2 separate regions of the Homo sapiens genome follow, and region 1 is reported to be linked to region 2. Evidence: microRNA targets listed by miRTarBase, many of them from high-throughput screens and not tested one by one. Region 2 holds a microRNA gene; the other region holds the end of a gene's coding sequence.

Region 1 (8,305 bases), not on the chromosome of region 2:
CTACTGTGCCCAGGCACACATAAAATTTTTGCAACTCTTTAAGGTAAATATTTTTAGTGTCTCTATTTTATAGACAGGGAGACAGGTTCAGAGAGGTTAGGTGTCACGTGTGAGGGCACTTCCCTGATAACAGTGGGAGCTGGATTCAGCCACACGTTTAGGTCAGTCTGCATTCCTGTTTTCTTCCACTTCCCCCTGACAAGACCTCTTGGGCCACCTTTCAGGAATCTGTTAACTGGGGGCAACAGAAGAAACTCTTTTTTTTTTGAGATGGAGTCTTGCTGTGTCACCCAGACTGGATTACAGTGGTGCGATCTCGGCTCACTGCAATCTCTGCCTCCCGAATTCAAGTGATTCTCCTGCCTCAGCCTCTCAGGTACCTGGGATTACAGGAGTGCAGCACCACACACAGCTAATTTTTGTATTTTTAGTAGAGACAGGGTTTTACCATGTTGGCCAACCTGGTCTCAAACTCCTGACCTCAAATGATCTGCCCACCTCAGCCTCCCAAAGTGCTGGGATTACAGACATGACCCACTGTTCTGGCCCCAGAAACCCTTGAGCTCTAAGGAGTTGCTCTCTAAGATCTTTTTTCTTTTTTTCTTTCTTTTTTTTTTTTAAGAGATAGGGTCTTGCTCTGTTGCCTAGGCTGGAGTGCAGCAGTGTGATTATAGCTCACTGCAACCTCAAACTCCTGGGCTCAAAGGATCCTCCCACCTCAGCCTCCCAAGTAGCTAGAACTGCAGGTACATGCCACCACATCAGGCTAATGTTTACATTTTTTTTTTTCTGGTAGAGATGAGGGTCTCACTATGTTGCCCAGGCTGGCCTCGAACTCCTGGCCTCAAGTGATTATTCTGCCTCAGCCTCCCAAAGTGCTAGGAATCCAGGTGTGAGCGACTGTGTCCAGCCATTAAGTTCCTGTTAGTATTATTTCTCCATCATATTATTTCTGGATATGGGAAAAGAGAAAACAACTGTGGGACAGAGAGCTCATTTAGGAATGTAGCTTAGTGTTTACAGTGAAGGTTTGAAAATTAGGCTCCTTGAGTTTACATTCTGCCTTTACCACTTTCCTTAGGCATACATTTAACATCTCTCAATTGCTTCTCAATTTTCCTCATCTATAACACGGATACAGTAAGTTGTGTTGAGATGTAAATGAGATAGTGCCTGTAAAGTGTGCAGCCCAGTGTGCGATACATACTGAGCATTCCATGAAATGTTAAATGTTTATTAAGCGAATAATGATTATTATGAACACTATAAAAGAAAGTTTCTCAAAGGAGGCTGAAAGGGGAGCCCAGAGAGAAGAGGTAGATGCTTTTTAGTGCTCAGGGAGGGCCAGATTTCTTCTGACAGCCCGTCTTGAGAAATGGCTGCAGGTTCAGAGGCTCCTAGGGCCACTGTATAAACCAAGAAGATGCCCAGAGGAGCTCCAGAGGACCTCTGCTGAAGGGAATTCCCATGAGAAACAGGGGTAGAGGAGCGAGCAGTTGAAAGGCAGGAAGCCCTGAGCCTGCAGGAAACATTAGCTGGAGAAACAAAGTGTGCTTGGAAAAGCCCAGCTCAGGACAAGAGCTTGAGACTGAAAGCTTGGAAGCAGGAAAGGGAGCCCCAGGAGAGTTCAAAGTAACTCACTACTCCAGTTATTTCTGATGTCTTTATTATTCTCTCTGATTACCACAGATAATACATTGGTACTTCATAGAACTTTATGCAATGCAAATAGCAAAGGAGTTCCCTATTCAAGTTTTTAAATTTTTTTTTTTTTTTTTTTTTTAGACAGGGCCTCACTCTGTCACCCAGGCTGGAGTGCAGTGGTACAACACAGCTCACTGCAGCCTCAACGTCCTAGGCTGAAGTGATCCTCCTGCCTCAGCCTCCCAAGTAGCTGGGATTACAAGCACACACCATCATGCCTGGCTAATTTTTTTTTTTTTTTTTTTTTTTTTTTGAGATGGAATCTTACTCTGTTGCCCAGGCTGGAGTGCAATGGTGCGATCTCGGATCACTGCAAACTTCTGTCTCCCAGGTTCAAGAGATTCTCCTGCCTCAGCCTCCCAAGTAGCTGGGATTACAGGCGTCTGTCACCACGCCTGGCTAATTTTTGTATTTTTAGTAGAGACGGGGTTTCACTATGTTGGCCAGGCTGGTCTCAAACTCCTAACCTTAGGTGATCCACCTGCCTCGGCCTCCCAAAGTGCTGGGATTACAGGTGTGGGCCACCGCGCTTGGCCTGGCTAATTTTTTTATTTTTTGTAGAAACAGGGTTTCACCATGTTGCCCAGGCTGGCCTTGAACTCCTGGGCTCAAGTGATCCTCCTGCCTCTGCCTTCCAAAGAGCTGAGATTACAGATGTGACCCACCACAGCTGGCCCTAAAAATTCATATTTGGTGAATTTCTCAAAGTGAATACGCTCGTGTAGCCCGCATCCCAACCATGGCACAACTTATCAGAACACCAGAAGTCCCTCTCTTCCAGTCTTTACTGATCACGATGGGAGTCTTTTTCCTGATTTTTTTTCACCATAGTTTTGCCTGTTTTTAAATTTTAAGTAAATGGAATCACGCAGTATATACTTTTTTGTGAATCTGGCTTCTTTCACTGAGCAATATGTTTTGCAACTCATTCCTATTGCTATTTAGTACTTCACTGTATAGATATATCCCCAATTTATTCATTTTTATCATCAAATACTGATGGGTATTTGGATGGTTTCCAGTTTTTAGTTATTATAAATAATGCTTGGATTAATGTTGTGCATATCTTTTTTTTTTTTTTTTTTTGAGAAGGAGTCTCACTCTGTCGCCCAGGCTGGAGTGCAATGGCGCGATCTCCACTCACTGCAACCTCCACCTGCCAGGTTCAAGCAATTCTCCTGCCTCAGCCTCCAAAGTAGCTGGGACTACAGCCACATATCACCATGACTGGCTAAGTTTTTGTATTTTTAATAGAGACGGGGTCTCACCATGCTGGCCAGGCTGGTCTCGAACTCCTGACCTCATGATCCACCTGTCTCAGCCACCTAAAGTGCTGGGATTACAGGCTTGAGCCAGAGTGCCCAGCCTCTTGTGCATATCTTCTGGTGAACATATGCACTCATTTCTCTTGAATCCCCAGAAGTGGAATTACTCCTGGGGTATGCATATGTTCAGCTTCAATAGTTACTAGTGCCTAAAGTCTTGAAAGGATGTTCCAAGTATATACAAGATCTCCGTGTGGGCTCCTGGAGAAACTTCAGAATATCACAACTCTGCAAGGGAAGAGGATGAGGAAGGGGCAGCCCAGTGGCACTTGTCCAGTGCTACTGCACTGCCCCAGTCCACTTGATGGACTGTCCAATCCACCAGGACACATGACATGCCCCAAATTCCACTTTCATTTTGTCACCACCATCCACATTCCCCAACAGAGACCCCTCTCTAATCCAATCACACTTTCAGGGCAGCATTGGATTGCATGTCTGTCCACTTGCTGGCATTGGACTGAATTGTATTTCCTACATTCATTCATCCAGGTAACAAATATTGAGTGCCTACCACTCAATTGCATTGTCTTAGAATCTAGGAGAGGAGCAATGTACACACCCCTACCCTCATGGAGCTAACATTTTCATAGGAGGAGATGGACTATAAACAAATAGGAATATGTTAGTGGTGATAAAAAGCAATGTAAGAAGAGTAAGAGTAGGATGGGAGAAGGAATGTGCTGTTGTTTAATACGGTGGTCAGGGAAGGCCTGCAGAGCAGACAAGATCTGAAAGACATGATCACTCTGGCTATTACACTGGAAATATGTTATATGGAAGCAAGATGGAACTAGAAAGGCAGAGGCCATCACAAAAGTGCAGGCATGAGATGATGCGAAATTGGACTGGGTGATGGTAGTGGCAGTGATGAGAAGTGGTTGCATACAGCATGTATTCTAAAGGTAGGGCTGACAAGATTTGCTGATGGATTGGCTGTGGAGCAAGATAGGGTAGTCAAAGACATCTTGTTCTTGCCAGAAGCAATGCCTGCTCATATGTGCAGCATAGGAGTAGATCCTGAGTCCAGGGCCTGTTGACTGAATGGGTGGATATCTTCCCTGATTACAGCCAGCTAAACATGCTGTGCGAAAGATCTGTTCTTTCTTATCTCAGAGATAGCATGGTATAAGTACTAAGACAAAATAATTGGAGCCAGACTACTAGTCCCAGCTCTGTCATTTACTAGCTGTGTATCCTCAGGCAAGTTACACAACCACTTTGAGCCTCAGTTTCCCCTTCTGGAAAAATGGGACAGTAATAGTACCTGCATCGCAGAATTGTTGTGGTAGTATACATAAATAGGCCTGGTATAGAGCCTACCACCAAGTCAGGGCTTAGGAAATAACTAAGTTAAACCAGTTCCCGGTTAAAACAAACAGACAAAAGGCTATGGAATAAGGGTTATCTTTATTTGGATTGCAAAGTATAAATATGAACCAGGTTTGGAAATACAAGTTGTAACAGTTCAGAAATGGCACCAGAAACTTCCAGAAAGGACCATGACAGCATAACTTCATCGTTTTGGTGAGGTGGGTGGGATTATACAAAGCCTTCCCCACCTCCAACCTTCTCGGTAGCAATTGGCAGGTAATCAGTTACCAAGAACAGTCAGCTCCAATGTTCCCTGTTCCTTCTCAGCCTTTTGCTTTGCTAATACCTTCTCCAGACTGTCCTCTGCTGCACTGACCCCTGCATGGAGTAGCACCAGAAGAATGGCAGGAGTTAGAGAAATGTCTTGACACAAGGGAAAGTGAGTTCCCACGCTGTGGGCCTGGGGCCATGGGGGTGAGGGACCAGGAAAGCTACAGGCATGGAAGCCCAACCTCTTCTGAGACTTGGCAGGGAGAGGACACGGGGAGACACTGATATCTGTTACACTTTGACATCAGCACCTTGGGCTTTCAAAACACAAATGGTAGACAAAATCGCCTAGGCAAGACTGAAGTCCAACTCATAGAGTGGCTCTGACCAAGTTAACCCCTACATCCTGACCATACAGAGCTCCCGCAGTGGCACTCTGACCACGGAAGATCTGCAGAAATGTAGACAGACAATAAATTACTACAGATGGGTCACAGAACCATCCTAGCTTTGTGGCAAAGGTGGGTGGCACTAAGCCAGATTGTGGGGATGAGGAGTGGAGGGCCAGGAAATTGCCAAAGTAACAGTCTAGGCACTTGAAATATTATTGTTAGATTGTTAAAAACTAAATAAATTAACATACATAGAATAAAATAAATATATAATTTAAGAGGCATTTACAAACAACAACAACAAAAATAGTTGTTATTTTTCCATCTGGGTAGAAGTCCCAAAATTCAGTTCTCAGGCTTGTGGTATTTCACAGTTAACTCATCAAATCCAGCACTGGAGGGTCCCAATGGCAGATCCCTTGGTGGTACTTGAGTACATGGCTTCTCAATCTTTGTTGCTTTCTTCCAGTTCACAAATCTTTCCTTCTTGCTCTCCTTCTTCTTCTTCTTTTTTTTTTTCAGTCAAAGATCCTGGAGCATATGGAATTTAACCGGCATTCTAATCCAGAAGATAAGTGTTTAAACAAACTTATGAGGGGAAGTGGGGTTTGGTGGAGGGGAATCAGAAGGGCATGAAGGTCCCTTGCTTTTGCTTTCTTCTTACCCAGATACCATCGGACATACTCTGTTTGGCACTTGAAGGCTCTGGTATTTTGGCAAAGCAATTATGGGAGGCCCAATCCTAGACGGCAACTGGGGACGAAGGAGTCTTTGTGACTAGATGGAAGTCTTTCCCCTCTGCAGTCTGAAATCACCTTGTGTCTTCTCAGAGGTAGCAGTCCCCAGCCGATTCCTAAAGCACAAAAGGAAGGCATGTAAAGCCAGGTCCAGTCTAAAGAAGTCTTAAGATTTTCCTGGTCCAGTCTTTTTTATTTTTAAACTTTTTGAGACAGGGTTTCACTCTGTCTCCCAGGGGAGGAGAGGGGAGGGGAAGGGAGGGGATGAGGGTGGGAGAAGCTGTCCTCTCAGGCATCTCTCTTAGGTGTCTCTCTAGCAACTTTTACCTTAAGTGAAGCACTGAGTCTTTTTGAAAATAATTCTGCAATGGGATATTAATGTCACAGTAGCCTGGCCCCCAACCCCTATATGAAGAATTCAGCACCCACTGAAGCACAGCCAGGAAAGGGGACAAAGGATAATCATGTCATGGGGCAAAGGATGGAGCGTTACCTTGAGCACAAGTCTCTCTCAGTGGGAATTAGTCATGCCCAACTTCACTTTCTCTTCATTTTCCACATCATAACCTCCTCTCCTATGGTACCTGAGGAAGATAAGTTTTGTGAATAAGCCCTGCCTGCTATGACAAAGTGCAGGTCCAGAGCAGGTCCTTCCAAAGAACTCTGCCATGGTGGTTTCCTCTACTACTTGGAAAAGCCCAGGCAGTAGGGCAGCCCAAACTCTGGTCAAAGGCCCAACTGCCCCGAGGAACTCCTGTCTCTAATAGCAGGATGCAATTTACAAATAGCTTTCACCTCATTTACGTGATCCTCACAACATCCTTATGAGGTAGATGGACAAACATTACAATCACTACAAGGTTACAATCCTCAGAAAGACAGTAACTTGTTCCAGGTCTCATGACAGATGAGTTACACTGCTTGAAAACAGGCATAGAGCTAGGCACGGTGGCTCATGCCTGTAATCCCAGCACTTTGGGAGGCCGAGGCGGGCAGATCACGAGGTCAGGAGATCGAGACCATCCTGGCTAACATGGTGAAACCCCGTCTCTACTAAAAAATAGAAAAAATTAGCTGGGTGTGGTGGCGGGTGCCTGTAGTCCCAGCTACTCAGGAGGCTGAGGCAGGAGAATGGCGTGAACCCAGGAGGCGGAGTTTGCAGTGAGCCGAGATCACACCACTGCACTCCAGCCTGGGCGACAGAGCAAGACTCTGTCTCAAAAAAAAAAAAAAAAAAAGAAAGAAAGAAAACAGGCATAGAGTGCTTGGTGGGTCTCCCAAGCTAGAGCATACCTGGATTAGAAAGCAGGGCCTGAGGTCCAGACGCCTCAGAAGTGGAAGGATATACCACTAGCACCACCCACACCTTGACTACCAAACCACATACTAATGCCATCAAAGAACAGCCAGGAGAAAGAAATGTGTGACAAAGTGACTCCATGAGTGGGTAGCTGGGTCATGGAGGCAGGAAAAGAACTCCTGTGAGGAGCAGAACCTGCTATGGCCTCGCAAATTTGACCCTGGGCTCTAGACACAGGACTCATGTCATGCCAGAAATACCAGGTTTTTGGAGAATCTACACCCCGGAGCTAGCCCATGATTTGGAAAGATTGAGGGAAGTGCATGTGACCATCAAGGAGAGGGCCCAGGAGGAGGAAGAAAGGGAGTGATTTGCAGAAACAGCCTGCAGGGGACCCCAACACTCACCTAAACATGAGAAGCCCCACGATGACCAGCAGACAGACAGATGACAGCACCACAGCCACCACGGCCAGGATGGTTGTGTGGTCATAGGTATATAAGCGATTTTCCACTGGGAGGCTCAGCCCATGACACCTCTCTCCATGGTAACCCGGGTGGCAGCTAGTTCAAGACAGAACAAGAAGGAGATGGAGTTAGTGCTTTGGCCTCTCTTGGCAATGGCCCACCTGCATAAGCCAAACCCCATTCCTCATACCCTCAGCCTGTCAATCCCTGACCACGATCCCTGCCCATCCTCCATCCTTCTCCTCTAGTAGAAAACTCTTTAAAGCCCCTCTGAAAGCTCTGTAGCATTCCTCTCTCACTTGACACCCTCCCCTTTTCCATTTCCTCTGGTTCTCTGGGCTGAGAATCCTGTTCTAGGCATGGAAAAAGCAAGGGAGGACTTGAAGGCCTCAGCTAGATATGTTCCACGTGTGGCTGATTTATGACATGTGTGTTCAGGCGTTCTGTTTAAGCCACTTATGAGGGCTTGGGCACAAGAGCTGGTAGGCTAAATTGAGGGAATTCGTATCACTCCCTCCAGTGAGGCCCCTCAACATTCTGACCCAGAAATAAACCCAGCCTTCCCCATCGTGCTTCCAGCGTCCAGTCCCTCTCCACTGCTGTCCAGCCTATTAATAGGCCCTGTGCCTCTGCCAGGAGTCGTTTTTCTCAAGTTTCCTTCATTTAACTCCAGCTCCCCCTGGGTGCAGGGCCCAACTTGGGAGCTCAACTCTGGCCTTTGGCCTCTGCACGCTGAGCTACCAGGCCTCTTTCATCACAGGACAAACCAAACAAATCAAGAAACATCTTTCTGCCC
Region 2 (8,305 bases):
GTCCATGAAGGGAAGGACCATATGTGTTGTTATCCTTTGTGCAGTTCCTGGAACATAATAAGTATATAAGAAATAGTTTCTGAATTAGCTGTGAATGAATTCATGCCTTCCTGCTGTCTGTCAATGTTCTTTTAAATTAAACATCTAAGACAGCAAATAATACCACATGAGTTATTAACCTGAGAAATAATCGTTTTATTTATAAATGACTGAGTTGAAAGCTGATAGCCCACAGTAATTGCTTTCATGGCTTTGAATATAAACCTTACTGTTACAAAACACATTTTCATGAAAATGAATGTGTGGTGTTTGGAACTAGCTTTAATGTTTGTCTTCCTGTTTTTCCTTCTAGTTGCTATAATATAATAAGGAATTTTGTATGTTTTTCCTAATTGTACCCACTTTTCTACATTTTCTTAACAGATCTGGTGAATCTTCATTATTAAATATAATTATACATATAAATTATTGTTTAATAATAATATTAATTATTAAAAATAATATAAATTATTAAATATAAAGATACATATAATATTATCTGTTAATTTCTAAGTTAGGTGTGGGTTCTGAAGACTATTATATGAATGAACAAAAAGCTTGCATATTTGCGTGGAAGCTGAAAGTACGAAATTTTTAGATACCATTATACCAGTATCTAAAGAAAAAATTCAGTACCACATAGGTTTTTAAGTAGGAGCTGTATGATCATAGGTCATCCAGATGAAGGAAGGCTTCTGTACCAGACGTACAGAGGTAGACAGTGTTGTCTGAGTACTGTCTGAGATCTGGCAAGAATGAATCCAATAAACGTAGTTTTCTCCCATGAGCTCCTGTCTTGTTTCCTGTATTCTGTTTGTATTTGAAAAGATTTGGTGTGCATAACTTATTTTTGTCTTTTGGCTGTCAATCAAAGTTATTAGTGTAGTTTTTGTAACTCAGTTCTCAAGCTAGGAGTTTTTGCTGTATAATTTTAATGTTTCTGTTTTTACTTTCCTAAGCAGATAAGCGTAAAAACTTAGACTAATTGATTACTTATTAAACGTCCAGCTTGATATTCTTCTTTATATTATTTTAGTTTCAGTTTATATAACAAATGAGGTTTCTTATAAATAAAATTTAAAATGCACTAAAGGAGCTGTGTGAAATAGGAATTCTGTGTGAAGCTTTTGAATGTGAACATTTAGAACGTTTCACATGGTGGGAATTTACTATATGATTTTCATCAAATGAGGTACTTTTTAGTGTTGGTACTTAACGATACTGATTTCTAAAATTTGTATTTCTAAAAATGACGTATTACAGGATCTGAAAGGGCAAAAACTCATTGAGGCTTTGTATGAGTCAGCGTTTCATGGCCTATTTTTAATTAGTGAATTATTAGCATATAATTAGAAATGTTTTTAGATTCTTCATGGCTGACCTACCAATGAATGTAGCACTGCATTTAAAATATAGTTCACGTTATGTTCATATTTAATTGTTGCATTTTGTTTGCCCCTCTTGAAACGAAGGTCACATGTAAATAAATATACATTTTCTCCTACTGTAGGAAATACTCTGTTAGCATTAGTAGGTTTAGCTTTTTTAGGTTAACAATAACAAAAACAAAGCTCACACAAAATAAACCAAATTTGCTCTATGTCCCACAGATGTATCTTGTGATTTTTCCAGAAGGTACAAGGTATAATCCAGAGCAAACAAAAGTCCTTTCAGCTAGTCAGGCATTTGCTGCCCAACGTGGTAAGTAAAAATTTGAGTGTTTGAACAAATAATTTTCAAAGATAATAACATTTTTAGTTTTTCTTCCTGGAAAAGATACTTTTGTTTTACAGTTGAAGGAATGAATGTATTCATTCCTTGAATTAGTGTACATATTATCTCTTAGGAAATGAAGTTTCTTCTCCTTAATTCACTTTCATGCTATTATTACATATATCTGAGAAATTAAGTTGAAGTGCTTGTTACGATACATATTCTTGTGCCATGGATTTATTTAAAATCTATCTAAGTACATGATTATGTAGATGGAAGCTTTTTCTACAGTGTATGGGTTATATGTAATGGAGCTTCTGTTTTGTAAGATGACAGACCTAAGTTGGAGTCCAAACTCGTACTTTTATTAGCTGTATGGTTGCAACTTGGAAGTTGTGTAATGTTGCTGAGCTTGCTTCTTCATCTCTTAAAAGAACATATGCCTTATAAGTAGATCTAAATCTGTGTGAGGATTAGATTAGAAAATATGTCAAGTTTCTATTGGAGAAGTTACACAAAGTTGGTCCACAGTGCTTGGAAGCTGTTAATGTCTTCAACAATGGTAATGTTCTTAATATCCATATTTTAGAAAATTGAATAATTGGTACACCAATAAGCTATGCAATTTAACCAAATTGGGAAGTATACAGAAAACAGTGGCTATGCTATGTTCTTAGAGGTGTCTTTGAAGCTTGACTGTGATTTAGTGTGTGATCTCCATATGTTGATAGTCACTCACTGAGCAAATACCTTGTTGGTGACATTACAGCAGGGCCTATGACAGTGCTGTCTAATGGAACTTTCTGCAATAATGGTAAAGTTCTTCATCTGTTCTGTCCAGTGTGCTGGCTCCTACCAATGTGGTTTTTGAGCATTCAACATGTGACTAGTGCATGAAACTAATTTTTAATTTTATTTAATTTTAGTTTAATTAAAAATAAGGGGGAGTTTTTACAAGGTGCTTACAAGAGCAGATATGTCATAGGTATATGACATCATTTGTAACAGTACTTTTAAAAAATGCCAGTTTGTTTTTAAACACATGTCCTATTAAGTAAGGAGTGTTTCAGAATAGGAGGGTTCAGTTGGTCTCCCCATCTGCCAGCTCTCTTTTGACTTTCATTGCTTCCTCTGTCTAATAGACATGACGTTCTGTCATTTCAGTTGCTCTTTTGCAATGCCATTGTCTCTTTTGCCCTTTTCACATTTATTAAACAGAACAAAACAAAAACCACTCTCGAATCTGTAGTCTACCTTTGTTGTAAGCACTTTTTCCAGTACTCACTCTGCCCTCAATTTGTTTTGGTCTGATTTGAAATTCTCTCCCTAGACTTCTGTGGGGCTGTTCTCCATTATCCTCCCAACTCTCTGGCGATTACTTCCTAGCCTCCTTTCCAGCCTCTTTCTGCTTCATTTCTCCCTGCTACATGTGTTATTTCCAGTGTCAGGTTTTGGTGTTTGATTAATTTCACTTTTTGTTTCTCATGGTGGCCTTCCTCTAAATCCATGGCTTTAGCCATCGTTTCCTTGACTGCTGATGACTCGCAAAAGCTTCCTCCCCTCCATGTCTCTCTGCCTAACTCTGGACCCATTTGTACAATTGTCCATTAGAGAGCTTCGCTTGACTGGCCCAAAAGGATGTCTCAAACTCAGCATATTGAAGATAGAATTTATCCTTCCATGCATACACTCATATTTCTTGTCTTGGTAACTCCATCATTCAGTTTTTTTGCCTAAGTTTTATTCACAAAAAGAACAAATTGATAGCAGTTGCATACCTCTTATAGGAAACTTAGACATGGAGGAAGAAGCTGTTCAGATGGGGTCCTGCAGAAGTGCAGGCACTGTGGTAATATTTAAACTTTTCTCAGCTGTTCGAAGGGTTTTGTTTTAACTAATTTTCCTTAGACTTGTTTTAGGTATTTGGCTTTCTAATGGTTATAAGGGATGTGGAATTAAATGTATCTTAATCTGCCACCTGGACCCATTAAAGTAAGCCCCTATGGTGGTTTTTTTTTTTTAATTGCCATGGTTAAAACCATAGTTGCTAGCGAAGGTGACATACTTAAGCTTTTTGAACTCTCTTAAAAGAAAACAGAAATTTAATGATGTGTCTATAATGGCAAACCAGATACCTAGAATTTCCATGTTATTCATAGGGTGAATAACACTGGCGATTGTAGAGATTTGAGAGTTCTTTCAAAACAGGAGAACAAAGGGAATAAGCTACAAAGCAATTTTTTTCTTTGTAGACTTAACTGAATAAAAATTATTTTTATGTCTCAAACATCATATGAACAAATTTAGTTGGCAAATGGCAAGCTAATAATATTTTATAATATAGGATATTAATATACTTAATATTACAAAAGTGCTTCATAATTAGAAAAGACATAAACTAGAAAAATGGGAAAAGGGCATGAATAAGAAATTCAAGAGATACAAATGACCCACACACTTGAACAAATGTTTATTCTTTCTCATAATCAAAGAAGTAGAAATTAAATGAATACTTTGAAGCCAACTTCTGAGAAAGCATAGCAAACAAGAAAGCTAGTGCTCAGCTTTGTGTGGTAACGGCACTCTCGCTCTTAAGAAGGTGTGTTTGCTCCCTGTGGCTGCTCTCAGGCAGGGCCACAAACTTGGTGGCTTAAAACACCACAGATTTCTTCTCTTACATTTGAGAAGTCTGAAATGGGTCTTACTCAGCTGAAATCAAGGTGTTGGCAGGGCTGCAGTCCTTTGTGGAGGCTTGGGGGGATCTTGTTCTCCTGTACGGGGTCCTGTGCTTGGTTCGGGGTCCTGTGCTTGGTCTGGGATCCTGTGCTTGGTTCGAGGTCCTGTGCTGGGTCCAGTGCTCTGCTTTTACCACCTTGAAGTTCATCTGGAAATGGCACTGGCTCGCCCACACCATATAGCTGACTCTGGTTCTCCCTCCTCCTCACTCGCTCTAAACCTGTGTTTTTGGCTGATTTCTAATCTCTCTTTCCTTGGCCCTTCTGCAGCTTGCAGGGCCTTCTGCAGCTCTTGTCTGCCCCAGCCCCGGGGTCTGCCCATCCCAGTGCTGGGCTGTTCTGTTCCTGCCCTGCCTTTCCTCAGCCCTTGGCAACCCTGTTTGTTTTCTCCCTTCCTTAGCAGTGGAGAACATCGTAAGATCAATGCTGACTGCCTTCTGCAGCCAAGCCAGGCCATTTCATTTCAGCCGAGCCAAGTCTGTGTGGAGCAGTTCTTTTATTTTTCTCCTTTTGACTACCTCATGGTTTTCACGGATTTTTGTTCTCTTCACATTCAAGGATTTTTTGCTTTCAGAAAGTTATATTTCTCTGGAAAGAGTGCACCCAATATCCCTTTTGATTTCAAAATCTTAATGTGGAGTCTCTTGACTTGGATTTCTTTGGAAGAAACTGCTGAAGCTGCCATGTCTAAGAAGAAAACTTTGGAGAAAAATTTTCTTCTTAGACATGGCAACGTCAACAGTTTCTAAGCTCTTGATTCCGTCTACCCTGTCTCCATCGTTGCCTCAGTCATCTGCCTTACTTCTCTGCAGGGGTTTCTCCCAGCTTGCAAATGTACTCCAATTCTGAAATAACTAAGTCTATAGCTGTGCAAAGAGAAGTCTGGGCCCCTTGCTTTCTTGTGTTTGACTCCATCCACTCTCCAGAAATGAATCCCACTTCTCACTTAACCACTGACCTCCAAAGCATCGTATCATTTGTGTCAGTTGTCATATTTGTTAACTTTCACATAACTTTTGACATTATTTATACCTTTATAACCAGGAAATAATTTTAACTTTATTGTAGAAATAAACAATGGAGTATAATTTTTCTTGTTGAAGATAAATATCACCTCCTCTTCCTTTAAACATCTCTTCCCTTTGTTTTTGTATTACATTGGTTTCCCCCCTTTTTTTATTTCCTGGGTTGTCGTATTCCCTGTTATTATTTTTACCTTTTTTTTTTTAATGTGGATGTTTCCGGAGTCTGTATTTCTTGCCTTTTCATCTTCTGCCCTTTATTATTCTCAGCCACTGCCATTACTTCAGTTATCCATTCCCATGGTTTCCACATGCTTAGCTTCGGTTGATTCTTGCCATTTTACAGACCATATTTCCAACTACTTCTAGAATGTTTTGTTCCTTCAGCCTCAGTATGCCCAATTTGAACTCATGTTCTCTCTCCCCCTTCTTTCTTCCTTCTTTCTTTCGCTCTCTCTCCCTTCCTTCTTTTCTTTCCCTCCCTCCCTTTCTTCCTTCCCTCACTCGTTCTCTCTTGCTTGCTTGCTTTCTCTCCTCTCTCTCTTTTCTTTCTGCATTCTTCTCCCTCCCTCTCTTCCTTCTCTCCCCCACTCCCCAACTTCCAGGCTAAAGCAGTCCTCCTGAGTAGTTAGGACTACAGACATACACGTGCCACCGCGCCCGGCTCCGTGTTCTCTTTGTTTCCCTGCCTCCTGCTCTTCCACTTATCTTTGCATGGCAGGTGGGTGCACGCAGGCATGCTCTGCATGTCTTCCTCTTGGCCATTCCCCTTCTAGTTATGGTGTGGCTTTATCTACGCGTTCTGGAGCAGAAGCCTAGTCACAAAGCTATTTTTTTAAAACATTCATGATAATTCATTTCCTTTTATGTTTTAAAAATACTAGCTTTCTGTCTTTATTTCCTTACTAACTTACTTGGATGCCAGTAATTAGTTGTTTTAGTGAACACCACAGAGTGATATTTTGAAACTTTGGACTTCATAAAGTTGGATGAGCTCCAGTAGCAAAGAAGGAAGTGTTAACTAGTTTAACTGACAAATAAATGCTTCCCAGCTTGGTGTGCGATTGAGATTTTTGTTGCAAGTTTGTGAATCAATTTAACTGCCCCTGCCCTGGGGACTAAAGTCAGATACGTGCTTGTGGGAATCTTTGTCTTTCCCACACCACCCTGCATTTTAAAACCTCTTGTGTGGGACAGTCCCACCATGTAATAGCTGTTCTTCCTTACTCAGCTACTTTCCCTCCAGAGAGGCCAGTAGAAAATCTAGACTAGTTTTTTATAGTCTATTTTCATGTCACTTATTGAGAGCTACTGTTTTCTGTTAAATTGTCAGTAAATATTTTAATCAAGGAAAAGGGAGGTAATAGGAAGGAGAGAAGAACAAATCCTTAACCCTAGTAGGAACCTAATGAATGGGATTTGTTCTGGATAATTGCAGTAGTCCCCCAGCTAAAGAACCTTTTAAAAATATGTCAGATATACCCAAGAGGATTGAAATCGTATGTTCATACAAAAGCTTGTTCACCTGCAGCCTTCATATGCAATTCCTATGAATGTTCATAGCAGCATTATTCATAATAGCCAAAGTATGGATGCAACCCAAATGTCCATGAAGCAATTAATAGGTAAACAAAATGTGATCTGTTCACACAGTGGAATACTAACTATTCAGCCATAAAAAGGAATGAAGCACTGAGTCCTGCAGCCACACAGATGAACCTCAGATCCATGCTGAGCGAAAGAAGCCAGAAACAGGAGGCCATGTGCTGTGTGACTGTATTTCTAGGAAATCTTGAGTCACCATGGGCAAGATGCTATCACCTTTGTTCAGTGGCCAGAAGCGAGGGCACTAATATTTACCCTTGCCGGGGTCTACTAGATTGAAGCGTTTCCGCTAGGCCATAAACTTCCAACACGGTGACTTGTACATGTAGATATTTGATCAATATATAGCAAATGAATATTGATTTAAACAGAAAAAGGCAAGTGAGAGTGCTTTCTAAACTTAGAGCCCTAAATATATGAGGTTGTGGAATTAATAGATTCTGTTGTGTGTGTTTGAGGGAATTTAAAAATAATTTAGATGTTAAACAGTATATTGTGGAGGTGTTTTGTAACTAATTAATGACGGCACTGAATTGACTTCTAGGCCTTGCAGTATTAAAACATGTGCTAACACCACGAATAAAGGCAACTCACGTTGCTTTTGATTGCATGAAGAATTATTTAGATGCAATTTATGATGTTACGGTGGTTTATGAAGGGAAAGACGATGGAGGGCAGCGAAGAGAGTCACCGACCATGACGGGTAAGTGTGTTCACGCACCTGAAATGCCTGTACACGGTATATACAGTGCACATGTTTATGTAGAATTCAGTTTTACAAAGTAGGTTAAGTGTACTTTTTTCCTTCATTACATTTACCCGGTATATTTTTCAAGATGTTATTAAGATGTAACAGTGGAGATTTCATTAGTCCTGCAAAGTGTGGTATTTCTTGGCTGTCGTGTGAGTCCTGTGGACTCACCAATTATCATTAATCCAGCCTCTTTCTACTCAAAGTTCACACTTAAAAGGAAAGCTCTGTAAAAGGGAGGAAGACGTGAAGAAGGAGCACGCCCGGCAGTACTGAGTGCACGTTATTAGTCAGTGCTGCCCTTTTGCTGTATTTTTCGTAAAATATTTATTAAATTTGGGTGTCATTGTGACAAGAAGAAATGCAGTTAAGTGTGACCTTTTTTTTTCCCCAAACATGTTAGGTTTTAAGAACCTTTGAGCTATTGTCAGATATAACCA

Evidence for each region. Region 2 holds the annotated microRNA hsa-miR-4659b-3p (UUUCUUCUUAGACAUGGCAGCU, at 5,164-5,185, opposite strand). A microRNA usually pairs through its seed, bases 2 to 8, with sites in the 3' UTR of a target mRNA and lowers its output. Matches are read on the target gene's strand: a 7mer-m8 pairs with bases 2 to 8, a 7mer-A1 pairs with bases 2 to 7 and ends in A, and an 8mer does both.
Region 1: miRTarBase lists HBEGF as a target of hsa-miR-4659b-3p. Seed matches in the 3' UTR shown: 8mer at 5,659-5,666, 7mer-m8 at 5,508-5,514, 7mer-m8 at 5,505-5,511, 7mer-m8 at 5,502-5,508 and 7mer-A1 at 5,465-5,471.

What each region holds. Positions count from the first base shown.
Region 1 is chr5:140,328,423-140,336,727 of GRCh38, forward strand. HBEGF (heparin binding EGF like growth factor) reads right to left here. Exons shown (of 6, transcript NM_001945.3): 4 at 7,450-7,605; 5 at 6,236-6,326; 6 at 4,421-5,858. The coding sequence ends at 6,254. Among named protein-coding and RNA genes, the nearest start is that of HBEGF, 14 kb to the right of the region's middle.
Region 2 is chr8:6,740,012-6,748,316 of GRCh38, forward strand. It overlaps MIR4659B (microRNA 4659b), which reads right to left and starts at 5,229; the gene lies at 5,157-5,229. AGPAT5 (1-acylglycerol-3-phosphate O-acyltransferase 5) reads left to right here. Exons shown (of 8, transcript NM_018361.5): 5 at 1,650-1,740; 6 at 7,659-7,817. It overlaps MIR4659A (microRNA 4659a), which reads left to right and starts at 5,153; the gene lies at 5,153-5,233. RefSeq lists enhancers at 4,444-4,723, 4,754-4,833, 6,446-6,495, 7,097-7,391 and a silencer at 6,256-6,305.